Linked DNA regions of Homo sapiens. The protein of the gene in region 1 purifies or fractionates together with the protein of each later gene. This does not show direct contact. Each region holds a gene or a part of one and is shown in the gene's direction. Other genes may lie near its edges. The genes, in order: DNAJC13, MAP3K4, NCAPD3, OCRL, EDRF1, ARFGEF1 and PRMT7.

Region 1 (3,500 bases):
AAGACCTTACAGAAATAGTATAGTTTGTTCTTGCATAAGCCAGGTTATGCTTCAAAGATAAAATGAAATAGAAATTAGGTCTATAAAGTTACAATAATGTGTATAAACTAAAAATATGTAAATGATCAATAGCAATGATTTCAAAGCATTGCTTAAGTGAACATGTTTCTGGAAAGAAAGCTTTCAGGTGAGTATTTTAAGGCATTTTTAAGCTTTGGAAAGGGAAGGGTCATAGTAATACATCTTTCACAGAAAATTTGAATTTTTTTAACAACAGATAAACTTCTGTTTTGTCAGAAATACAAATTATTCCCCTCAGATGAAATGAGCATACATGTGATAGAAATAGAAGAGACAGGTCTCTTTTCAATACTTGATTTATACTGTTGAATAGAAGAGGTCAAAAAAAGTAACTGCTATGGTAAGTATGCTTGTCCCCTCCTCCCATTAAGTGTTTCTTCAGATTTAGGGGTTGCTTTTGAATTTTTCTTGCCCTGTATTTCATTAATATATACTCAGTTTGTAATAGAAAGGAATCAAGTTTTTAAAAACAATGGTGGAGATCTCATATTATTTCAGCTACCCTATGGTAGTGAAACTAGTTAAAAGTTGATTATGATGTGACAGTACAATCACTTCACTTTAAAATATCTGGGCAATTATTTGAAGATATGATTATCAGATGAAATTTGATATTACCGCTGGCTTTTTTTATTCTTCAACGACATCTATCTCTGGAGGTATCGGGTTCTTCAGTAAGTTAAGGAAGGCTAAGATGGTAGGTACTAAAATCTTTGTGATGTATTTATGGTTTGTTTTAAGATTCCTGTTGGTATCATACATATTACACATACTGATTTGTTGTTCATTTAGAAGAAAATGCTTTTACCTGTACTTGAGTCATATATTAAAATGAAGCTAAAATTTAAAAATAGGGTTAAAGTTCATATGGCAGTTTCCCCCATACACAGCACATTCTATCTAAACAGTTTAGTTGTAGCTATTTAATCTGGGTAAAAATGAACATTCTGTTAGCCATTCATATTTTTTACCATTTGTTTGAAACCAAACTAATCTAGTGCTATGATTTACTCAGATTTTGAATCCAGTTACAAACAAACCTAGATCCTCAAGAAGCCAATATAAGATATTCTATCTATTACTCTTATTAGTTATTTTTTCAAAGGGTTAGTCTTTCCATGGTTCTCCTTACTACCCCTCCCTTTTTGGTAAGATATAGCTGTAGGAAGTATTACGTTCATAAATTAGTTCCTATGATGTGAATGTCTGCTACATTTTAAGTGTGGTTTTGGAATGTAGCATTGTTTCTGTTGTAGGAGAGTTTGATCAGAAAAGGCAAACTCCACAATTTTCACCCAACATATTGTAAACATTTTCACCTACAGCCAGGTTGAAAGAACTTTACATTAGATACCCACATGCCCACCTAAAGGTTTTTACATTAACATTTTACTGTACTTGCTTTATCACAGATCTGTCCATCTTTCCATCAATCCATCTTATTTTTTATGCATTTCAAAACAAATTCACATTTTTAGTTATTGAGGGCAGAGCTAATGAAAGTAAGTTCCGTTCTTGCATTTTACAGACTCAAAATGGGAAAATCAGTAGCTTACCTGTTCTCTGCAAGTTGTCATATTTGTGTAAAAATTACTTCCAGTTGATGATGCTAAATACGTGCTTTAAACAGGTGACTAGCCTGATTAATGCCAATCCTTCTTTCACTAGTGTATTTTTTTCTAAGTGTATTCATTCATCCCTAGTTAAATGAGTGTTCTGCTTGTGTTTTTGCTTAACACAAGCCATGTGTATATACTTAATTTTGCTGTGTGTGTAAATTTTTTTGCTTATAGCTTGACCGTAATTGGCTTGAGTGTCTGTGGTGTTGAGTCCCTTCATCTTGCTTTTGTTCTTAGTGTCAACTTGATGTAGGCTTCTTCTCACTGGACTCCCAAATCCTGTGGTTTTCTGTCAAAATTATGTGTCTTCTAAAAGATCATTCTCATTTTAACCATAAATGATCTTAAATGGTTTGCCAGTATTACTGCCAGTAATAAATTAGAGAATGCAAGAATATTGTGTTGTTCGAAAGCATGATGCAGTAGTATTCATTGAGAGAGGTGAATCTAGCCAAAATGCCTGTGTTGCCCTGAATTTGACTTTTTAACCCATAGGACAGTTCTATAAAAAGAACAAACAGAAGTTTCTTTGGTGGTGTAATTTAGGATATAGCATGAAAACAAGTGAAGCTGACTCGCAAAAATTGGAGATGCTTTCAATGCAATTTAATTACAAAAGGCATGTAAATTTGATTTTTCCTCATCAGAAAGAATCATGGGTCTTTGAGAATTTGAAATATGGAACACAATTGCAGGAATGAAGGAGATGAAATTTAAGTGACGTTAGTTTGAGCAGATAAATTCCTGCTATTTCGAATAGCCTCTAAACAACTGGCAGAATGGCAAATGCTAGTGATACAGCTGCTACCAAGATCTCATTCAAGATCCCATTTAACTGTTTACATTTTTTAGTTGGACAGTTTGTGGTTGTTGATAGCATGTGCTTATATTTGACTGTTACTGATATTACCTGCTTGATACTTGAGCTTCTGATACTAGAAATTTTACAGATTTTTTTCATCATAAATAGTGGAAATCAATGGTTGCTTAAGAGTTTTTGCCTATAAGTGATGATTTTTTTGAATCACTTTTAGAGCTTATTAATGTACAGAGGAAATATTGACTGCAGATTAAATTTATTTTGTGAAGTTTTTTTTTTCTTGAAAGTTTCTCAAGCCATAGTTAATTTGTAGCCATCAAACATAAATTTAAAAATATTAGGTTGGATACATGTAAGGAAACAGTTCTAACAACTGAAATTTCAAATACCTAAGTGGGGAATATTAAAAATGTAGTAAATAAGATTGACTTGTAATAGTATTTTGTAGGAATAAAGTTGAAATAAAAGACAAGCTTAAGTGTTGGGTTATAGTTGACAAGATGATTTTTAAAAATTTCATCTATCCTGATTATCTTGGTGTTTATATATACATATGTGTGTGTGTGTGTGTGTGTGTGTGTGCACGTGTGTGTGTGTGTATATATATATATATTTTTTTTTTTTTTTTGAGACAGGGTCTGACTCTGTCTCCCAGGCTCGAGTGCAGTGGCAAGATGAGGGCTCGCTCACTGCAGCCTCAGCCTCCCAGGCTCAAGTGGTCCTCTGACCTCAGCCCCCCAAGTAGCTGGGACTATAGGCCTGTGCCATGACACCCAGCTAATTTTTTGTATTTTTAGTAGAGACAGGGTTTTGCCATGTTGCCTGGGCTGGTCTTGAACTCCTGGACTCAAGCGATCTGCCTGCATTGGCCTCCCAAAGTGCTGGGACTACAGGCGTGAGCCATCGCACCCGGCAATATTTTTTTCTTTTTAAAAACGTTTTATGGGAAACATAAATTGTAACAATAAAATAATAATGAC
Region 2 (4,112 bases), on another chromosome or scaffold:
TTTTACTTAGCATATGAGTGACTTTTTTTTTTTTTTTTTTTTTTTTTGAGATGGAGTCTCGCTCTGTCGCCAGGCAGGAGTGCAAGTGGCATGATCTCGGCTCACTGCAACCTCCGCCTCCCGGGTTCAAGCAATTCTTCTGCCTCAGCCTCCCAAGTAGCTGGGATTACAGGCACCTGCCACCATGCCTGGCTAAGTTTTGTACTTTGGTAGAGACAGGGTTTCACTGTGTTGGCCAGGCTGGTCTCGAACTCCTGACCTCATGATCCGCCTGCCTCAGCCTCCCGAAGTGCTGAGTGACATTTTTAAAGATTGAGAATACTATCTTTTAGAGAGTATATAAAGAAACACACATGTTTTGGACAGAAATTCCATGTGGTAGGGCTGCTCCGGAGACATTTCCAATCTCTATCAAAATTTTAAATGTGCATAGCACTTAAACCAAGAAGTTTTCTGCTTCTGAAAATGTATCTTATGATGATAATATTAATGAGCAGTTATACAAATGTAAAAAGACACGCATGAACTGCACATGGTAGCTTACCGTACACATACAGTATTATAGCAAAAAAGTTAGAAACCTTCATTTCTAAGTTAAAAGTTAGTGTTAAGTTACTAGTAGGAAATCAGTTAATTATAATGTAGCTATGCCTTGCAGCTGCTGAAACAGATCACATATAAGTGCTCAGTAAATATTAGCTAGCATTATTTCTATTAGCATTAAAATAGAAAGGCAGTTGTGATATCTGTGTTATTCCAGTAAAGCCACACATAAAAGAACAGGTTCTCATATTGAAGAATACATATTGGCAATGACGAAACAATAGTTTAGAAATTAGAATGCCATACACACTTAGTTCCTTCCCCTGTGAATCTCATTTTTCATAGGATCATAATGAAATAAGCTTTGCACTAATGCAATTTTTATTTTTCAATAAGGTAGCATATTAACCATCCCTATAAGAGAATTGGGTTTTATAGACTTTTTTATGTCATTTTATATATTTTTTAGTTGCATGATGATGGCTTCTAGATACTGTTGGACTAAATAGTGCACCCCAAATGGAGTAGGCAAACTATGCTGGCCACCTGTTTTATAAATAAAGTTTTGTTGGAACAGTCATATTCATTTATGTGTTGTCCATAGCTGCTACCATGCTGCCATGAGATTAGTGAATAGTTGTGATAGAGATCATATGGCCTGTCAACCTAAAATATTGTTTGGCCCTTTCAGTAAAAATTTGCTGTCCCCTGATATATATTAATGATGAGATGCTTAAAAACAGACTGAACATTTGCGTTGTTTGTGGCTGTGTAATATTAAAATCTGATTTTTTAAAAACATCTTTTTTAGAGGCCTTGGCATGAGTATGAGCACAACTTTCAAATTATGTATAAAGTGGGGATGGGACATAAGCCACCAATCCCTGAAAGATTAAGCCCTGAAGGAAAGGACTTCCTTTCTCACTGCCTTGAGAGTGACCCAAAGATGAGATGGACCGCCAGCCAGCTCCTCGACCATTCGTTTGTCAAGGTTTGGCAGATTACTGGATAGTCTTTTTCATGTTTAAGTGTTTAAGTTCTGTTTTGCATCAAGACGTTAATGAAATTTTGAAACTTTAAAGTAGCTATATCTGAAGTGGAAAGGAACTAAATGTATTATTATGCCAGGGATTTTTGTATGTGTTTTTTCATTTGGAAAATGTTCATTGAGGTTCTTCCACTTGATCTGTTTTGATGGTGCATTTAAGATACACCAGAGACAGTAAAATGGACTTTTAGATGGGACTGGATGAAAGAGTTTCCACTCTTGAGAGTGTATAGTCTACTTGGAGGGTCAAGACGGTAATGACTAATCATTATACTGAGAGCTGTGATAATGGTATATAAGGTTACTCAGAAGAGGAATTTAATTAAGTCAGCCAATCTCAGTTCTTTTTTCTCTAGAATGAGGTACCTTAGTTGTTTAAGAGCCACAGCCAGGTCAGAAGTGGGGGAGGGGGCATGGAAGACAAAGTAAAGAAACTTGGAAACGCTCACCCTTCCGGGAGAGTGGGATGGTCACAGAGCCCTGTGTAGGTAGATCCTGGTGAACACAGGATGTGGACAAGGGCAGGAAGATAAGGCTAGAACAGTAACCAGGAGCAACATGAAGGAGTTTCCATTTTATTATAAACATAAATGATGACATAGAGTTTTAGAAAGATCACTCTAGAGGCAAAGGAATTGAGAAGGTTCTGATACAGCCAAGGGGTTGGGAGAGGGCGTTCCGGGTGAGTGAACAGCGGCATTTAAGAGTTAGAGTGCCGTGGCTGACCCCTGATTGGATGTGAAAGGTGAGTGAGGGGAGGAGTCTAGAGTGGCTCCCAGGTTTCTGGTTTGTGTCATCAGGTCACAGACTCTATTTGCCAGGGTAGGGAAAGAAGCAGCTGGGTGAGGGGTGGGTCGGGAGGTGGTGGGTCCTCTTTGGTGGATGAAGCTTGGGGTACATTTGGAGCATCTGCTTGGAGATTTCACATGGGCATTTGGATACCTGGGGCTGGCACTCAAGAGGGATTTTGGGTAGGGCACAGGTGTGGGAGACAGAAGTATTGCTGGGAGGGTCCACAGAGGACAAGGGGATGAGAACAGAGCCCTGGAGAAAAGAGCCTTGCAAGGGCCCTGCAGGAGAGAGTCCCTGGGAAAGGAAAGGAAGGGGCAGAAGAGTGGGGTGATGCTCTTATTGGTAAGTGGGAGTAAGGGGCAAGCAGCAGGATCAGCTATGGAGACATTAGGGATTTGTAATTAAATAACAATTTATGTCTTAGTTATGAAGTGCATAACAATTTATATTGACCTGAGAGTGCATATAGGCGTTTTAGAAAATGCTTTCATTAGTCAGTTCCCAGGCTTAACTTTAGAGCAGTAACTTACCTCTGCCATTGTTCATTACATTTCTTAAGCCTTGCCCTCTGTGCCCAGTACAGTGCTGGGAGCATCAGGATGAGTGGATGGGGCCTTCCCCGTAAGACTCATACTGCGCGTATGCACAAGCACACACCTGGCTCTGCAAGAGCTCAGCTCTCTCCTGCTTCCTCACAGGTTTGCACAGATGAAGAATGAAGCCTAGTAGAATATGGACTTGGAAAATTCTCTTAATCACTACTGTATGTAATATTTACATAAAGACTGTGCTGAGAAGCAGTATAAGCCTTTTTAACCTTCCAAGACTGAAGACTGCACAGGTGACAAGCGTCACTTCTCCTGCTGCTCCTGTTTGTCTGATGTGGCAAAAGGCCCTCTGGAGGGCTGGTGGCCACGAGGTTAAAGAAGCTGCATGTTAAGTGCCATTACTACTGTACACGGACCATCGCCTCTGTCTCCTCCGTGTCTCGCGCGACTGAGAACCGTGACATCAGCGTAGTGTTTTGACCTTTCTAGGTTCAAAAGAAGTTGTAGTGTTATCAGGCGTCCCATACCTTGTTTTTAATCTCCTGTTTGTTGAGTGCACTGACTGTGAAACCTTTACCTTTTTTGTTGTTGTTGGCAAGCTGCAGGTTTGTAATGCAAAAGGCTGATTACTGAAATTTAAGAAAAAGGTTCTTTTTTCAATAAATGGTTTATTTTAGGAAAGCTCAGTTATATTGTCTTTTAATGGTTAACACTTATGAGCCAACGCAGTATGATACAGAAGTCTGTCATTTTCACTCATCTGTTCCTCAAAAGGAGGAGCACAATCACGTGTGCTAAAGATGGTCACTGGGTTCGGCGTCTCTTTAGGATCGCCTCGCTGAAAAGCAAAGGAAATAAATGAAGCAACACTAATGACGTAAGGTGGTTCCTTTTAAGTAGTTTCTATTAACCAGCAAGTTTATAACAGATACAAGTTTAAGCCTTGTTATCACATGTTGGGAGTTCACTTTATTTTTAAACCAAGATGTTTAGGTGCTAGGTCAGTGTAATTACTGCTGAATGATCTGATGAGAAAGCATCTTTTTCAGAAGTAAACATTTCAGCATTTAGCTTTCCAAAACAGCCCAAATTATACATCATTGGTGTTTTTTTTGTTTTTGTTTTTGCTATTAAATTTTTTAAAAAGATTGACCATAGAGCTTCCTGAAATCTTTTTGGAA
Region 3 (3,500 bases), on another chromosome or scaffold:
TTCCTTTTAATATAAATAGAGGGATAACTTTCCTGAATAATCACTAATATATGGTGTCCCAAAAGTCTTAGTGTAGTTTTAAGCTATAATTTCTGAAGTATATATGCTACAAACTTAACAAAAAATTCTTTTGAAAGTTTAATTATTTAAATATGTTATATACATATTTATCTTGGTAATTTTGAATAATATACCTTTAATTTTGATATTTTGTTTCAGTCCCTTTGAAGATGGTAAACATTTAGCAGTAGGAGCCAGGCTACTCTATTCCTCTTTTTGTAAGGCACCAAGAACTTACAAAAATCAAATAATAGGAAATGTTTCCATTTCTCTAATGACTGGCTTTTGTGATTTGCGGTCTCCCCACAGAGTATCTGGACCTTCTTCATTGAGAACAATGTTTCCCATAGTACACTGGTGGCATTGTTCTATCATTTTGTTCAAATAGTTCATAAGAAGAATGTCAGTGTACAGTATCGAGAATATGGCCTTCATGCCGCTGGGCTTTACTTTTTGCTACTAGAAGTACCAGGTATGTAGACCTGATATGATAGGATAAATCTTCTGTCATTTTTTTCTTTCTACAGTTTTCAATTCTTATACTTTGTTTCTTGTTTCTTCACTTATAAATGGGGCAGTGCTAACCCATGGCAGAGAGTTGTTGCGAGGAGCAAGTCTCTAAAGTACATGGCATGTTATAGGTCTTGGAAAACCTTCCCCCTTTTTTTTTTCATCCGAAGTTATGCTATCTATAAACTAATAAAAATAGTCTGAGAAGGAGTGCAAGAGTTCCACGCCCACCCTCCACCACGGCCGTCTAAAATTCTGATATTGCCCTTTCTTCTCATGATTCCTTGTCTAGACTGAGAAATACTGCTGTGGGGAGTCATTGCTTTTTACCTCTCCGATGTTGGTATTGAAAAATAGATTAAAACCATTCTAATCAAGAAAGCAGGAAAGCAGCTAGTAATACTTGAAGGAGAGCACTGACCAGGAGTCTGTTTTCGAGCACTGTTTTACTTGATTGTCAGAGCACTGAGGAGGCTGTTCCTCCTATGACAGTGAAATCCATTCTCTTCCCTACTCCAAACACAGGGTGAGAGAGAGTGGAACATAGAGATTGAGTCAGATAACCTGAAGTTCATATGGAAAAGAGAATGGCAAGATCAGTCACCTTGCTGCTTATCTTTGTTTAATTACAAATGTTTAGCAAAGGATTTATTCCATGTGATCTGGGAATGGGCAAAAAGGTCTTATATTTAAAGCCCTGAACATTGATTTGTGTTGTTGTTAATGCTCCCATCATGACTTTGGAAATGAGTAAGTTCCTAAAGGATTTTGTTGCTAAGCAGTGTCTCGGTTGTAACTAGGCCCTCTCTCAAAAAAGTAGTGGTTTTAGAAACCCAGTTTCACTCTCCTCTTGCCAGATGCAGTTTCTTCTGATTAAGGTTGAGATTTATGCCAGAGCAAAGAGGTGGCTGTTACTAATTGCGTGGGCCACTTGCAGCTTTCCAGCAAGCCGTATTCCTGCCAGTTACCTTCTGTTTTTAAATGTTTCGGGTTTATGATTGGGATGCTGTCGATACTTAACATTCGATCACAGTATATTCTTTTTCAGGATCGTTTTGGTTGTTCTGCCTCCCTTGCATTTCCATGTGAATTTTAGGATCTGTACGTGAATTTCTGCAACAATAAAAAAGCCAGCTGCGGTTTTGACAGGGATTGCATTGAAACTGTAGATGAGTTTGTGAAGTATTGCCAATTTAACAACATTAGGTCTTCTAATCCCTAGCCGCAGGATGTCTTTCCATTTATTGTAGATCTTCTTTAATTTGTTTCAATAATGCTCTATAATTTTTGGTGCGCAACTCTTGCATCTCCCCTTTAAAATTTATTCTTAAGTGTTATTTTCAATGCTAGTGTAAATGAAATTGTTTTCTTAATTTTATTTTGGTTTATTAGTACTGTATAGAAGCAAAATTGATTTTGATTATTGATCTTCTATCCTAGAACCTTGCCAAACTCATTTGTTGGTTCCAACAGGGTTTTCTTTGTGTAAGATCATGTCATCTGTGAATAGACACAGGTTTACTTCTTTCTTTCTAGTCTGGGTTCTTTCTATTTATTTTTCTTACCTATTTGCCCTGGCTAGAACCTCCAGTACAGTGTTGAATAGAAGGGGAGCGTGGGGATCCTTGTCTATTCCTGATCTTAAGGGGAAAGCATCCAGTCTTGCCTTTAGGTATGATGTTACCTGTGGGTTTCTCAGGATGGCCCTTATTAAGTTATTATTCCTAGTTTACTGAGTGCTTCATTATGAAAGGCTGTTGGATTTTGTCATTCGCTTTTCTGCACTTGTGAAGTGCTCATGTGGTTTTTGTTTCTTATTCTAATATAGTATATTACATTGGTTGATTTTCACATATTAAACCAATTTTGTATGACCTTGGTCATGGTGTATAATCCTTTTTATATGTTGTCAGAGTGTTTGCTAATATTTTGTTGAAGGTTTTTTGTCTATATTCATAAGGGATATTCTTTTTTTGAGATATTTTTGTCTGGTTTGAGTATCTGGGTATCTTGGTAATACCATTTTCATAGAATAAGTTACATAGTATTCCCTTCTCTTCTGTATTTTGGAAGATTTTGGGTTTTCTTTTTTCTTCAGATGTTTGGTAGAACCCACTAGTGAAGTCATCTGGGCCTGGAGTTTTTTGAAAGAAGTTTATGTTTGTAGAATTTCTAGTGATCTCCTCTCATGCCTGATGTTGGTGATTTGTATTTTGTTTTTTCTTGATCAATCTAGATCGAGATTTATTCATTTTACTGTTCATTTTGGAGGGCCCCCTTTTGATGTCATTAATTAAATTCTGTTGTTTGTCCCTTTCTTGTTTCATTGATTTCTGGTCTTATGTCTACGATTTCCTTTCTTCTTACTTTGGGTTTAATTTGCTCTTATTCTGACTTTTTAAGGTAGATGCTTAGATCTTTGTTCTCACATGCATTTCTTTGTTTCTAATACAAGTATTTAATACTATAAATGTCCCTCCAGGTACAGCTTCATCTGCATCCCACAAATTTCGATGATATGTTTTTACTGTTGTGCAGGCCAAAGTGATTTTCAAATTTTTCTTGTCATTACTTACATCTCTGAGTTGTTTAGTAAATTGAGTTTATTTTCCAAATATTTGAACTTTCCTGAAATCTTACTGTAATTGAGTTTTAATTGGTGGGATCAGAGAACATACTTCATATGATTATGATACTTTTAAATTATTTAGTTGTGCCTTTTTTTTTAATGGACTTAGAGTCTAATTTGGTGAATCTTCCATTTGCACTTTAACAGAATGTGTACCTTGCCTTTGTTGGATCTAGTATTCTGTAAATGTCAGTTAGGTCAAGTTGGTTACAAATGTTATTCAAGACTTACATATGCTTCCTGATGTTCTGTTTATTTGTTCTATCTGTTGTTGAGAGAGGAATGTTGGAATCTCTAAGAA
Region 4 (3,500 bases), on another chromosome or scaffold:
ACACGAGAGTTAACTTGCGGGTCAAATTTGTGAGAACAGAAATGAACAGATACCTAAAATGGTGTAAGGAAGCATCTAATTTTCTTGAAACCCGTAGGAATCTATATATTCTGCATAGAAACTAAGACTTGGGGTCAGTTCTAACAGTGACAGTTCCTAGGATATAAGAGCAAAGCTCTGCTGTTATCCTCTGTGGGAGGTATTTTGATTTATTTTTTGCATAGCTTATGAATGTACTTGTGGGAATTCTTTAGAAAAGAAAGCTACTTGTTCTTACTGATAACCTGGGTGAACAGAGCAGTTCTATAAAATTTATCTCTCTCCCATCTTTTTTTCATCTAATGTTTCAACATATGGGACAGGAGGTAGCCAGAGATAATTATGGGATATGTATAGATCTCATATCCCTTTTTTCCTCAGATTCCAAGAACTGGACTTGAGCACAGAAGCCTTCTTCTACTTTGAATCTGTGAAGGAACAAGAATGGTCCATGGCTGTAGAGAGAGGTTTGCATTCCAAAGCCAAGTATAAGAAAGTAAGCCGCATTTAATTATCTTTTTAAGTGTATGACTAAATAGGGCTCACCGGGAGTTATTCCATTATCTACAACTTGTTCCAAAAGAATAGTTTAATTGAATTCTTCTCTGTGTGTAATACTGGGATAGGGCAGATTGATCATTCATCCTTATTTCCTAGAAAAAAAAATCCCTAAGCTTTCTGATACTATATTTTCATTGCTTAGATAGCTTTTAGGGGAAAAAAGAATTTTATTATGCTTATATCAATACTTAGTTTGAAATAATTACATATAAGATTTAGATTACTCACTGACATGGTCAGAATTGAATGCTTTACAGAAAAGCAATATGAAACGTGGGCGCATGGTGCATGTGTTGCAATCAGAGCAAGAATAGAAGTGGTGTGGAATTTGAACGAGTTCTAAACTTGGTTTTAAGTTAAGAGGAGAGTTGACTTTAGCAAGATGGGCCAATTTGTTTGTCTTTAGAAGGTATGTGGTAAAGGCATTTAGCTACCAGAAGAGTTAATTACAGGGCTATCATACTAAGGTCTCTAAAAGAAGTAATGTGAGTAATTTTTCTCTACATCTTCTAACAGTTTATATAGGTAATAAAACTCCTGGGGATGTTATTCCTCTCATATAGGTCCCTGACTAATGTATATCTCAGACATATTTCTAGCTGTAGTTCACAAGTTAAAAATAAGTAAAAAAGATTGCTGTTTGGTTGATTTCAATTTCTTAGAAAATTAGACATCAGAAACTAGGAAGGAAAGGTGGAAGGAACAAGCTGGGATAGTGGCTTTATTATTTGAACTTTTAATGCTGCTTACTCCTGGTAGGCTAAGAAGTGATTAAAAGAATAGATCTAGAGCTGAAAGTACTCATTGTCCCTCCCAGCTTTTAACTCTTATTGGTCAGTGCCAGATTAGAGCCTCCCCAGAGAATATTAGTTTCCACTTGACGGGGTCCACTGAGAAATTAGAGGATATGAAGTCAGATTTGGGCACTAGTATATCATCTTGATGGAAAATTAGTCGTGGGACATTAGAAATGTGGCAAAGATTGGTATTAACATTAACCTTTTGTAACTCCCCGGAACTCATAGGTTCAACTGGTGCGCCTTGTTGGGATGATGCTTCTTATATTTGCCAGAAAGGATCAGTGTCGATACATTCGTGATATTGCTACAGAAACAGTTGGAACTGGAATCATGGGGAAAATGGTGAGTTACTTTGGAAATGAGCTTGATTATTATTCATGTTCATGTAAAGTTCAGTTGCTTGTTCTGTGTACTAATTGAATAATTACTCTTGCTAACAGGGAAACAAAGGTGGGGTAGCTGTGAGATTTGTATTTCACAACACCACCTTTTGCATTGTCAATTCCCATCTGGCTGCACACGTGGAGGACTTTGAGAGAAGGAATCAAGATTATAAGGACATTTGTGCGAGAATGAGTTTTGTGGTCCCAAATCAGACCCTCCCGCAGTTGAACATCATGAAACATGAGTAAGTGGTTAACTCACCTGTAGCCTTTGAGTAGTGGCTACAGGAGTTTGGATAGTGTAGAGATTAAATGTGAGATACTGTAGAGCTGTGAAGAGTGAAAGATTACCAGTGAGGGATTGGGGTCACAAAGGAGAGGGTTTTTGAGTAATAACAGAATCATTGAGGCAGAGAAATTAGACTTGATATCAGAGGAAAAGATAGTTCTATTAGTGGGGCACCTAGAATAATGCTGGAGGGTCTGTAGTTGGAGTCAGTTTTTATTGTTTTTATGATAAAATAGAAATATTCATTGCAAATGTAATAAAAGATAAAATTAGAAGTTAAATTTCCTCATTTCTTATTCTCTACCTAGCCAGTCCCTCTCTCCAAAGGAAACCATTCTTAACAGTTGGGTGTGTAGCCTTTTAGATCTGTACTGTCCAATATGACAACCAGTAGCCATATATGGCTGTTAGGTACCTGAAAGTGACTGGTCCAAATTAAGATATGCTGTATGCATAAGCTATATATTGGATTTTAAAGACTTAGGAAGAAGATGTACGATATCTTGATTTCTAAAATATTGATCACATGTTGAAATAATTTGGATATATTGAGTAAAATGAAATTTATTGATACTCACTTGTTTTTTTTCTTTTTAAATGCAGCTACTAGAAAACTTAAAATTATATTGTGAGGTGCATTATAATTCTATTAAATAGCACTATTCTAGCCTTTTGTCTATTCATATACAAACACACACATAGGTACTTGGTGTATAAGACTGTATTATTCTATTTATTGTGGATTCCTTTCCAAGCCAGTATATATAGATCTACATTATTCTTTTTAATGGCTGTGCTTATTAAAAACAGGGGCAGCAGAGAGAGGTCAGTGAAGAATGGGATTTAATAAGCATAGAAGCAGAGATGTGTTGAGGAGTAGATGTGGTGGTAGAAAATGATTAGTTTTAAAGAAATTAATATACCTAAAACCATGAAAACCCTAGAAGAAAACCTAGGCATTACCATTCAGGACATAGGCATGGGCAAGGACTTCATGTCTAAAACACCAAAAGCAATGGCAACAAAAGCCAAAATTGACAAATGGGATCTAATTCAACTAAAGAGCTTCTGCACAGCAAAAGAAACTACCATCAGAGTGAACAGGCAACCTACAAAATGGGAGAAAATTTTCGCAACCTACTCATCTGACAAAGGGCTAATATCCAGAATCTACAATGAACTCAAACAAATTTACAAGAAAAAAACAACCCCATCAAAAAGTGGGCAAAGGACATGAACAGACACTTCTCAAAAGAAGACATTTATGCAGCCAAAAAACACATGAAAAAATGCTCACCATCACTGGCCATCAGAGAAACGCAAATCAAAACCACAATGAGATACCATCTCACACCAGTTAGAATGGCAATCATTAAAAAGTCAGGAGACAACAGGTGCTGGAGAGGATGTGGAGAAATAGGAACACTT
Region 5 (3,500 bases), on another chromosome or scaffold:
TCTCTCAAAAGCATCAAGATTATGCTCATTGGAGGGTCTTTGTATTTGCTGTTGCTTCTGCTTGGAATGTACCTACCCTAGGTCTGTTCATGGCTGCCTTTTTTAAGGCTTAAGTCTTGACTGAAATGTTGCCTCTTCAGGGAGATGTTCCCTGACCACTCTGGCCAAAGCATGCTCTACTTTTTTGTCCTTCAAGGAGCCTATCTGTTCCTGAAGTTCTTAATGTTTGTCTTGCTTCACTAGAACGTAAGCTCCCTGCAGGTACAGACCCTCTATCTCCCATGTCTAGAACACATTATGGGTGCTCAGTAAATATTTGACTAAATGACTGCAGGAAAAAGTCATTAACTGTCCATCTAAATTTTAGTTCACTTTCAGCTTGAACTTCCACAGTGGAGTGAAAAAATGTTCTGGTTATAATCATTGATTGCAAAAGTTACATGTATCTGGAAAACTGCATTGTAACACTAGGCCATGGACTTACGGGGCAATTAGGTAATAATTAAAGATGTAATGAGTTAGTGTCACTATTTTTCACAGATAGCACTTTCTGTTCCGTATCTGAAGCACTCAAAAAATGCAGTCTTAGTATTCATATAAACATGTCTTTAGTTAGCCTTTCCTTATCCTCATTGAATGACTTTGTGGTATGGACAGTCAGCATGAGCTCCAGGGTCCCAGCTCCCCACTCACTCACCGTGTCCTCAGACAAATTGCTAAACTGTCTGTGCATGCTTCTCTTCTGTGCAATGAGAACAGTAATTCCAACCCCACGGGATTCAGCGAAATGAAATGCTTCACAGAAGCCCCTACACATAATATCCTTCATAGTTGGAGGTTGCTAGCTGCTTTTGCTCCTTAATTAAGCAAATAAATTAAACAACGAGAATATTGGTGATACTTGTTATTTCTAAATTGACGCTAATTGTTAATTGTGTTTTGTCCAGTATCGGTGCTAATTATGAGTGGAGCTGACCTATTAGATGATGTCTATATTTGTCTAAAACATTACTACTCTAGTTCTTGCTTTTTTGTCATAATAGAATTGTATTTAAAATTGTAAGTACTTAAAGCAACATATATGTTGTAGGATCTTTTTAAGCAAGATTTTTGTTGATAATGCTTACAGTAATTTAATCTTCAACAAAAACAATATGTTGACCTTAATACATTGGTAGTGTATTAATAATTTTATGTTTGTTCCTCAAGCCCAGTTGTGCATTTCCAGTTTGCCATGACACAGAAGAGCGCTGTAGACTTGTGCTTAGCTATGTTCTAGAGGTAAGTTTAAGTTTAGTCTTCACTTTTTTCGTAAAGTTTGTACTTGATTATGCAAATTACACTTGTTTGTTGGTATCTAAATGTTATTCTGAATTGTGTTCTGCTGCGATTTTTTTTTCCTTAAGCATAAAGTGAAAATCAGATTTGTTTTTCCCAAATCTTTCAGATCAAACATAGTTTTTGAAAGTCTGTTTGTGAGATGGAAATTTTCCTAAACGTATTCAGTAGTCCAGATACTGTCTTATATTTAGTTTTCAGTTGACCTGAAGTTAGATAGATAGTGAATGCTTTTCCTTTTTTTGCAGGGTTTAAAATCTGTCGATAGCAGCATCAAAAAAGAAAGCGACCTTCCAGCAGCTGACCCCAGCACTCCAATCCCGTTAAAATATGAAGATGAATCCTCAAGAGGGGGTCCCGAGGGGCTAGAGAAGCAGATGGCCTTGTTTTTGGACAAAAGTAAGTTGAATTGATGTGCAAATAAGGCCTTCAATAGAATAATACACTGGTTCTTTATCAACAGCAGACTTATGTCAATTAAGGCATTAATTGAAAGGCATTGAGAAAAAGATATCCTGTGAACTGGAATTAGGGGTAGTATTCTTTCATTTGAAATATAAAAAGGATAATTTTGATGTTTCATGGACATTTCTAATAAGAGCATAAGGAGCCTGCATCTTCCTGTTACCCACAGTGGGGAACTAATGCTTCAGCCTGGTGGAGTTCTCGCTGGATCGTGTAGGAGCCACAGACTTAGCCAGACTGCCTAACTTCATATCTTGGCTTTGCGAGGGCAAGTTGCTCCACTTCTTTGAGTCACTTTTTATCTCTTTCAAAATGGAGACGATAATAATGGTTTCTTTAAAGGGTTGTTAAATGATTAAATGATTAATATATGTAAAGTGCTCAGAACAGTGTACATAATAAGCACTATAGAAGTGTAGGCTGTTGTTACTGCACAGTACTTGAATAAGCTACAAATGTCACTTTTAAATTATCTAGTTCTTCAGGAATATAACATCATGAAGAATATATGGACTTCGAAGCAGAAGTTGTGAATTTCTTATTTTAACCTAAGTTGTATTTCTTTTTCCAACCTTATTTCTTTCCCCCTTTTAAATCAGTTTCAATTGTTTAAAAAAAAAAAAAGTGTAGAAAGCCTGTATGTTTGAAGTACATCTGAATCATAGTGGAAGCGCTTTCTGGACCCTTCTTCTTTTCCTGAACAAACATGGTGGAGGTAGGAGAGGAATAGATTTATTTCCCCAGCATTTATATAGTGCTGCTGGTATGCCAGGCTTCGGCCTACAGGCAGTAAGGAGATCACACCAGGACTTTTGCCATTCTTTTTTTCTGAAATGCCTTTTCTGTCTCCTTCTCCATCTCCCCTGTTGAAAATCCTGCTCAAGCTCAGAATCTCCATGTTTCCCTCTGTTCTCCATCAGAATTACTTGATTCTCTTACCACTTTGTCCTGTGAGCCTGCCTTATGTCAGAGTTCCAGCATTAAATGGTTTTACACACACATGCACACACACGGTTGTGAACAAGAACTTCATCTTAATTTTAGTTTCTCACAATGCCTCTTACTCACAGATGATGCTTATATCAGCAGAGGAAAAAAATCCATACACACATTAAACCATAATGAAGACTAAGTACCTTTCATTGCCTTGAAAGACTTGTGTTCTAGCTGATTAAAAAATGAGAAACCTTCAGGCTGGGGGAAGGGGTGGGTGTTTTTGTTATTTGCAGAGCAAAATTTTCCACAGTATTTTGTTCTTTGTCTGTTAATTACACTTAACATATTTTGTTGTGGTTTATGTTATCAAGGATAGAGGCCATATAACTTCATGTCACAGTTTCCAGTGCCTGGCACAGTACTTGGCAGAAAAATGATCATTTGTTGAGTAAAGAAGGTAGCGATGGGCTGGACTTTAAATAAAGAGTATTCCTTGTAGAGGAAACAGTAAACTAAGATGGGAGATAGGAAAAACAGGCATGTTTATAGGTGACAAGCAGTAACTTAACATTGGCTGATGGGTAGTAGGATGGACAAGTAGGAAGTGAGACTGAGAAACATGCAACTAGCTAAGTGGGGAGAAGCCGTTTTCATGTTTGAGGACAGGCTTTCACGCTGATCTAAGCTGTGCTTTAGGAAGGTAAACTTTGACAGGTTGACACATAGACTGGAAAAAGGAGACAGGTGTCACTCATGAGGTT
Region 6 (3,500 bases), on another chromosome or scaffold:
CAGTTGAAAGTGAAGCTAACTTTTGGATTCTAGTCCAGAGCTCTTTATAGGCAGTTATGTTTTGCCTATTTCAGTGGCACATATACTAAAATTGTAGGCAGTTATAGTGTCCATTTTTTATAAATTATTTTTTATTAAATTGCTCACTGGTTATTTGTGAAGCATTTAAATTATTTTTTGAGAAGTTAGTATACTGAATGTATGGGTGTTATGTTTTGCCTTTAATAACCCTACCTTTTTTCTTGAAGGCTTTCAAGGAATACACAAGCGATGATATGAACGTAGCACCTGAAGACAGGGTGTGGGTGAGAGGATGGTTCCCAATTCTCTTTGAGTTATCCTGTATCATCAATAGATGCAAATTAGATGTAAGAACCAGGTAACAATCTATATTTGTAATTAAAATTTTGGATTTATTTTGACTTTAATCAAATTAACTCTTCTTTATAAACACAATCTCACAGTTAAAGACCATAAAATCAAGTGTTTTGTCAAATATATTAATTATTAGGTATATTTTAAAATATGTTAATATGATTTAAAAATATTAACTAGAGCAAAATAAAAATGGAAATACTACATTATTTTTAAAATATTTGATTATAGCCTCCATTTGATTTTAGCTTCTAAGTTAATTTAATCCTTTAAACATTCCGTCTTTTCATATATTTGTTTCCAATAATAAGTTGAAGTTAGTGGCAAAATTTATTTTATTTCCTGATGAATGATAGAAGAATTTTTAACTGCACATCCTTGCTGGGTTTTAGGTGAAGAACCATTTCTTTTTGTAACCTGGTCAGTAACATAGTTTGGAATAATATAGAGCTATTCAAATAGAACTCTTTCAAAAGTATATTGCCAATAAAAGATCATTATGAACATATAGTCAATCTGTAAAGGAACTATTATGGGTATTATGTAACTGGCCAAATGCTAACACACTGTTCTTAGGTCACGGCTCACATGATTCCCATAGTAGTTTTTTTACCCTGTACTTTGCCACATTGAAATGGCCAGCTTGTGTGTCCTAATATCTGTCAACCTCTAAACCCACCGTGAGTTCAATTTTATGGTAAACAAAATCTTTTAGGAATCTTTCCATCTTATTTGGAAGAATCTTCTGTTATTTGGATGTGTAACTTTATCGAATTTTTTGAATTTCTAAAGGTAGCACAGAATGAATCTCTCTTTTCTCACCTTATGCCAGAACCACCCCCATCCCCCACCAAGGTTAAATTTGACTTATATCCCAAGAAATTTTTCATTTTTATAGTATTATTTGTTACAACAGAAATTCGTATGAAATAGATAATCAAAATAGGACTTAACCCTTAGGGATTTTAATTATGAGAGCACTATAGAAAAACATTTTATTTTATATTTAGACATGGTGGATTGTTTATCAGTGGACCTGTTAGGAACTTGTTAAAATTCAAGATAGCCCCATTTCAGCTGTCCACCTGCCTCAGTGGAGCGGCTGACATATCATGACTAGCAGGTCATGAAAACTCAGCACCCTCTCCCCTCACCCTTTATTTATTTGTAGAAGTCTGTTTGATGGAGGATCCACCTGCTTTCTTAGCCTTCTGTTGCTTGGCACTGTGATACCTTATTTCTCACCATATTCCATGTTCAGATTATGGGTAGATTCCAGTTGTTAAAGAGGTTGTGTGTGTTCTAGTTAGTAAAGGAGAGAGAAAAGATCAGTAAACTTTGTTCAGTGATGGCCTTTGATTTTCCTACCTCATCCCAGGATATGTATGGGTTGCTATTTAGCTTCCATCTTAAAATGTGGGCCGGATGCCATGGCTCACATCTGTAATCCCAGCACTTTGGGATGTCAAGGTGGGAGGATTGTTTGAAACCAACCTAGGCAACATAGTGAGACCCCATCTCTTTGAACAAAAAGTTAACTAGGCATGGTGGTCATGCCTCTAGTTCCTGCTGCTCATGAGGCTGAGGCGGGATTGCCTAAGCACAGGAGGTTGGGGCTATGGTGAGCCCTGATCACACCACTGTACTCCAGCCTAGGCAACAAATTGAGACTCTCTGTCTTTAACAACAACAAATAGTGCAGCACTATAATTGGTATAACACTGTGTAGAAAGAATTTCTTGTGTGCATTCTTACTTAATTCTTCCAAAATTCTCTAGATTTGGGGATAAATACCGAAAATTAAAGTCCCAAATATAGTCAGGCATCATTTAATGACAGGAGTATGTTCTCTGCAATGCATTAGTAGGCAATTTCAGCATTGTGTGAACATCATAGCATGTACTTACACAAATCTAGATGGCATAGCCTATTGCTCCTTGGGTACAACCTGCACAGCATGTTACTGTACTGTAGGCAGCTGTTAATACGGTGGTGTTTGTGTATCTAAACATATCTAAACAGGCTGGGTGCAGTGGCTCACGCCTGTAATCTCAGCATTTTGGGAGGCCAAGGTGGGCAGATCACCTGATGTCAGGAGTTTGAGACCAGCCTGGCCAACCTGGTGAAACCCCATCTCTACTAAAAATACAAAAATTTGGCCAGGCATGGTGGCCATACCTATAATCCCAGCACTTTGGGAGGCCCAGGTGGGCGGATCATCTGAGGTCAGGAGTTCAAGACCATCCTGGACAACGTGGTGAAACCCCTTCTCTACTAAAAATACAAAAATTAGCGAGGCGTGGTGGTGCGCACCTGTAATCGCAGCTACTTAGGAGGCTGAGGCAGGAGAATCGCTTGAACCTGGGAGGTAGAGGTTGCAGTGAGCTGAGAGTGCCACTCTACTCCAGCCCAGGCAACAGAGTGAGACTCTGTCTCAAAATAAAAATAAAAATTAAAAAATACAAATACAAAAATTAGCCGGGTGTGGTGGTGCACACCTGTAATCCCAGCTACTTGGGAAGGTGAGGCATGAGAATTGTTTGAACCCAGGAGGCGGAGGTTGCAGTGAGCCAAGATGGCACCACTGCACTCCAGCCAGGGTGACAGTATAAGACTCTGTCTCAAAAAAAAAAAAAATACATACATACATACATACATACATACATACATACATACATATACATATATATATATGTGTGTGTATATATATATATATATATATATGTGTATATATATATATATGCATGGAAAAGGTACAGTAAAAACATGGCATAAAAGATAAAACCTGTAGGCTGGGCATGCATGGTGGCTCACGCCTGTAATCCCAGCACTTTGGGAGGCCAAGGTGGGCGGATCACGAGGAAAGGAGATCGAGACCATCCTGGCTAACACAGTGAAACCCCGTCTCTACTAAAAATACCAAAAATTAGCCGGGCGTGGTGGTGGGCACCTGTAGTCCCAGCTACTTGGGAGGCTGAGGCAGGAAAATGGCTTGAACCTGGGAGGTGGAGCTTGCAGTGAGCAGAGATCATGCCACTGCACTCCAGCCTGGGCGACAGAGCAAGACTCCATCTCAAAAAAAAAAGAAAGAAAAAAAAAAGCAACAACAAAAACCCATATAGGGC
Region 7 (3,500 bases), on another chromosome or scaffold:
ACTCCTGGCCTCAAGTGATCAGCCCAGCTTGGCCTCTCAAAGTGCTGGAATTACAGGTGTGAGTCACTGTGCCTGGCTCTTGATTTTTATTTTAATGAAGCAATTTGGACTATAAAGCATTTTAAGTTATATAATTGGTTTAAACATTCAGGAGATAGAATTGGCAGAGTGGGTGATCAGTGGGTTGTAGGGTGACAGAAATCAATAATTTATCTAATGTGTGTTGACTGTTACGGGGCACTAGACCTTGTGGGTGCTGGGGTACAGTAGTGGACAGGCAGTCAGCGGTCCTGCTGTCCTGGAACTAGTAAATGATGCCCAGATTCCTGGACTATGTGACTCATTGATTGATTGAGGCAGAAACCCTGGAGGGAGGAGCAGGCGTGTTAGCTGGGGTGGGTGGGATGAGTTTTGGACAGTGTATTCCAGTTGGAGTTTGATGTGACATCAGAGAGGATGGGCAGGGCTTCTCGGGAGGGTGGTCTCTGTGGCAGAAGACAGAAGTTTCTTCTTAAGCTCCTCCACGTGATACTGTCATGGAGCACAGGTGAGCTTCATAGGAAGTGTGCTTTTTTTTTTTTATCTTCATCATCCCGACCACCACCACATGAGACAGAGCCCATTCACCCGTTTTACTGATGAGGCAACTGATGGTCAGAACGGAGGGCTCAGGGATAGGAAGTGAGATCCAGGCCAGGCTCCAGCCTCGAGCTCGAGGTTCACGCTGTCTCTGTTGTGCTCTTCTATCAGCTGCTCTCTTTCTTTTTTTTTTTTTTTTGAAATGGAGTCTCACTCTGGCCCAGATTAGAGTGCAGTGGCGTGATCTCGGCTCACTGCAACCTCTGCCTCCCAGGTTTAAGTGATTCTCCTGCCTCAGCCTCTCAAGTAGCTGGGATTACAGGCACCCATCACCACGCCTGGCTAATTTTTGTATTCTTAGTAGAGACAGGGTTTCACCACGTTGGCCAGGTTGGTTTCAAACTTCTGACCTCAGGTGATCTGCCCATCTCAGCCTCCCAAAGTGCTGGGATTACAGGCGGGAGCCACCGCGCCCGGCCCCTGTCAGCTGCTTTCATGCTTCTCTTTTCCTTGTGTCATCTGTGAGACTTGTGCTCTGTGTAGGGGAAATGAGTGGGCTTTGTCAGATTATAATTCATGAGGCATTAAAAGTGTTTACAGTTAATTCTCCCTGATGAATAGCCCCTTCCAAAGTCTATTTTGGCTCTTGGCTCATTAAAAATTATAATTGTAGAAGTAGCAGTACATTACTGAGGTTTAGAAAACAGTTAACAGAAGATCCCTCCCAAATCCTACTCTTCTCTAAAATCCTACTGTCCTAAAACAACTGTTATTTAAGAGATTGTTTGGTGACAAGGCGCTTTCATTAAGGGAATTTGCCATAGTGATCTGGGGATTCTAAGTCATGGATCTCAATTTTGGCTGCCAGAGCCTAACTCACAGTAGCTGGAAGATCATCAGAGAACCTTGTTGTCTTGCTTTGGCTTTCCCTCCCTCTCCCTGCAACCTAGAAGTATTTGACATACCAGCATTCTGTTTTTGCTTTTCAAATAATTTTTCTAATTTAGTGGTTAATAGTTTAATTGTTAATTTATATCTCTCTAATTGCTAATAGGGATGAAAAAGTTTTCATAAGTTTGATTTCTGTTTTGAATTTTCTGTTTATATTTTTACCTGGTTTCTTTTTGGGTGTGTGTTTTTTTTGTTTGTTTGAGACAGAGTCTCACTCTGTCGCGCAGGCTGGATCACTCTGTCGCGCAGGCTGGAGTACAGTGGCACAATTTCGGCTCACTGCAACCTCTGCCTCCCAGGTTCAAGTGATTCTCATGCCTCAGCCTCCTGGGTAGCTGGGGTTACAGGCGTGTGCCATCACACCTGGCTAATTTTTGTATTTTTAGTAGAGATGGGGTTTCGCCATGATGGCCAGGCTGGTCTTGAACTCCTGGCTTCAAGTGATCCTCCTGCCTTGGCCTCCCAAAGTGCTAGGATTACAGGCGTGAGCCACCATGCCTGGCTAATTTTTGTATTTTTTGTGGAAATGGGGTTTTGTCATGTTTCCCAGGCTGATCTCAAACTCCTGAACTCAATCCATTGGGTATTTATAGTTTTCTTATCATTTTTTGCAGTCTCCCTCCCAATATTAAGCATACAGAATAGCTGTAAGAGCAGTACAGTAAACACTTATGATCCCTTACCCTAGATTTATCAATTAGCGTTTTGTCATACATTTACATATGGATTTTTTTTTTTTCCTGAACCATTGGCAAGTCAGTTGCAGACATCCTGACACTTCTGAATACCTCAGCATGTATATGTGCTTTTAGCGTGATGGCCCCTTAACCACTTATCTTTCCCATATTTGCTGTAAATATTTTTCCTAGTCTGTTGCTTATGTCCAACTCTGTTTTCTTGTGTTTTTCAGAGGGTGACATGCCATGCCGTGCCAACATCCTGGTCACAGAGTTGTTTGACACAGAGCTGATCGGGGAGGGGGCGCTGCCCTCCTATGAGCACGCACACAGGCATCTCGTGGAGGTAGTAGACGGAGGGCTCCCTCAGACGTGTCTGTGGTCTCAGCCAGCTCACATAGCACTCACTCATGCACCGTGTCCCACACAGCCCAAGCCCTCAGCACCTCTGATACACCTGGGACACCCCTCCATTCCTGGGGGGGCTCTGGTTCTCCTCACTTAAAACTTTCATGTCCCTTGAATGCCAAATCTTAATAGGTTAGAGTTGAAAAGCAAGAAACTATATTCAAATTCAGTTAAGTTCAGCAAATATTCTCAGGAAGGCGATGCTTGAGCTGTCAGTCTTGAGAAGTGATCAGGTGTTGGCCTGGCAGATGGAATATTTCTGGTAGAGGAGAGCAGCACGTGCTAGACGTGAGACTGAATCGGTGCGGTGGCTCCGGAGCCTGCTTTGGATTTTGTGCTGTGTGGGAGGCAGGAGAGATGGGCTTAGCAACTGAGGCTAGAGAGCTGGGCAGGGGCTAGATGGAGTGGGGTTTGGGGGCCATGCCCAGAGGGTAGCTGTCATTAGAAGGTGGGGTGGCATCACAGGAGGGTTTGAAGCAGAGGATTGACAGCAGACTTATGCAGGCAGATGTGTGGAGGGCAGTTGGGGTATAGGGCTGGAGGTTGCGGGTGGGTTAAAAGGCTGTGGAATCGTCCAGACGCTGTGGTACAGTGGGCCTCAGCTAAGGCTGTAGACAGAGGCCTGATAGGTGGTCCCAGGAGTTGGTGGTCCCTTAGGTGTAGAGATATCGATGCTAGGGTTTGGGCACCTGGATTGGATGGTGGTGCTTCCTGTTGACGGGGAGTGCAGGAAGAGGGGTAGCCTTGGGAAGGTTGGGAAGTGGTGAGGGCGATTCTTCTGGTTTACACAGAGTTTGAGCTCTCTAAAGGTCAGCCAAGCAAAGAGGCCCAGAGATGCATGGATTTACTCAGTGAAGAGGGCATGGTTGAGGTCACTGTGGAGAG

The links.
Region 2: the proteins of DNAJC13 (region 1) and MAP3K4 purify together in Homo sapiens (affinity purification with mass spectrometry; one large-scale study listed by BioGRID and IntAct). This does not show direct contact.
Region 3: the proteins of DNAJC13 (region 1) and NCAPD3 purify together in Homo sapiens (co-immunoprecipitation; one large-scale study listed by IntAct). This does not show direct contact.
Region 4: the proteins of DNAJC13 (region 1) and OCRL purify together in Homo sapiens (co-immunoprecipitation; one large-scale study listed by IntAct). This does not show direct contact.
Region 5: the proteins of DNAJC13 (region 1) and EDRF1 purify together in Homo sapiens (affinity purification with mass spectrometry, with the first as the bait; one large-scale study listed by BioGRID). This does not show direct contact.
Region 6: the proteins of DNAJC13 (region 1) and ARFGEF1 purify together in Homo sapiens (affinity purification with mass spectrometry; one large-scale study listed by BioGRID and IntAct). This does not show direct contact.
Region 7: the proteins of DNAJC13 (region 1) and PRMT7 fractionate together in Homo sapiens (co-fractionation; one large-scale study listed by BioGRID). This does not show direct contact.

Annotation. Positions count from the first base shown.
Region 1 is NC_000003.12:132,424,002-132,427,501, forward strand, and holds part of DNAJC13 (dnaJ homolog subfamily C member 13), read left to right. Parts: intron 1-3,500.
Region 2 is NC_000006.12:161,113,769-161,117,880, forward strand, and holds the end of MAP3K4 (mitogen-activated protein kinase kinase kinase 4), read left to right. Parts: intron 1-1,354; coding exon 1,355-1,534; intron 1,535-3,081; coding exon 3,082-3,102; 3' UTR 3,103-3,612; downstream 3,613-4,112. UniProt on the Homo sapiens protein: Component of a protein kinase signal transduction cascade. Activates the CSBP2, P38 and JNK MAPK pathways, but not the ERK pathway. Specifically phosphorylates and activates MAP2K4 and MAP2K6.
Region 3 is NC_000011.10:134,213,968-134,217,467, reverse strand, and holds part of NCAPD3 (condensin-2 complex subunit D3), read left to right. Parts: intron 1-369; coding exon 370-532; intron 533-3,500.
Region 4 is NC_000023.11:129,560,759-129,564,258, forward strand, and holds part of OCRL (inositol polyphosphate 5-phosphatase OCRL), read left to right. Parts: intron 1-420; coding exon 421-535; intron 536-1,625; coding exon 1,626-1,742; intron 1,743-1,840; coding exon 1,841-2,028; intron 2,029-3,500. UniProt on the Homo sapiens protein: Catalyzes the hydrolysis of the 5-position phosphate of phosphatidylinositol 4,5-bisphosphate (PtdIns(4,5)P2) and phosphatidylinositol-3,4,5-bisphosphate (PtdIns(3,4,5)P3), with the greatest catalytic activity towards PtdIns(4,5)P2.
Region 5 is NC_000010.11:125,736,709-125,740,208, forward strand, and holds part of EDRF1 (erythroid differentiation-related factor 1), read left to right. Parts: intron 1-1,209; coding exon 1,210-1,281; intron 1,282-1,586; coding exon 1,587-1,737; intron 1,738-3,500. UniProt on the Homo sapiens protein: Transcription factor involved in erythroid differentiation. Involved in transcriptional activation of the globin gene.
Region 6 is NC_000008.11:67,221,782-67,225,281, reverse strand, and holds part of ARFGEF1 (brefeldin A-inhibited guanine nucleotide-exchange protein 1), read left to right. Parts: intron 1-248; coding exon 249-379; exon of another isoform or gene 380-593; intron 594-3,500. UniProt on the Homo sapiens protein: Promotes guanine-nucleotide exchange on ARF1 and ARF3. Promotes the activation of ARF1/ARF3 through replacement of GDP with GTP. Involved in vesicular trafficking.
Region 7 is NC_000016.10:68,335,019-68,338,518, forward strand, and holds part of PRMT7 (protein arginine N-methyltransferase 7), read left to right. Parts: intron 1-2,440; coding exon 2,441-2,553; intron 2,554-3,500. UniProt on the Homo sapiens protein: Arginine methyltransferase that can both catalyze the formation of omega-N monomethylarginine (MMA) and symmetrical dimethylarginine (sDMA), with a preference for the formation of MMA.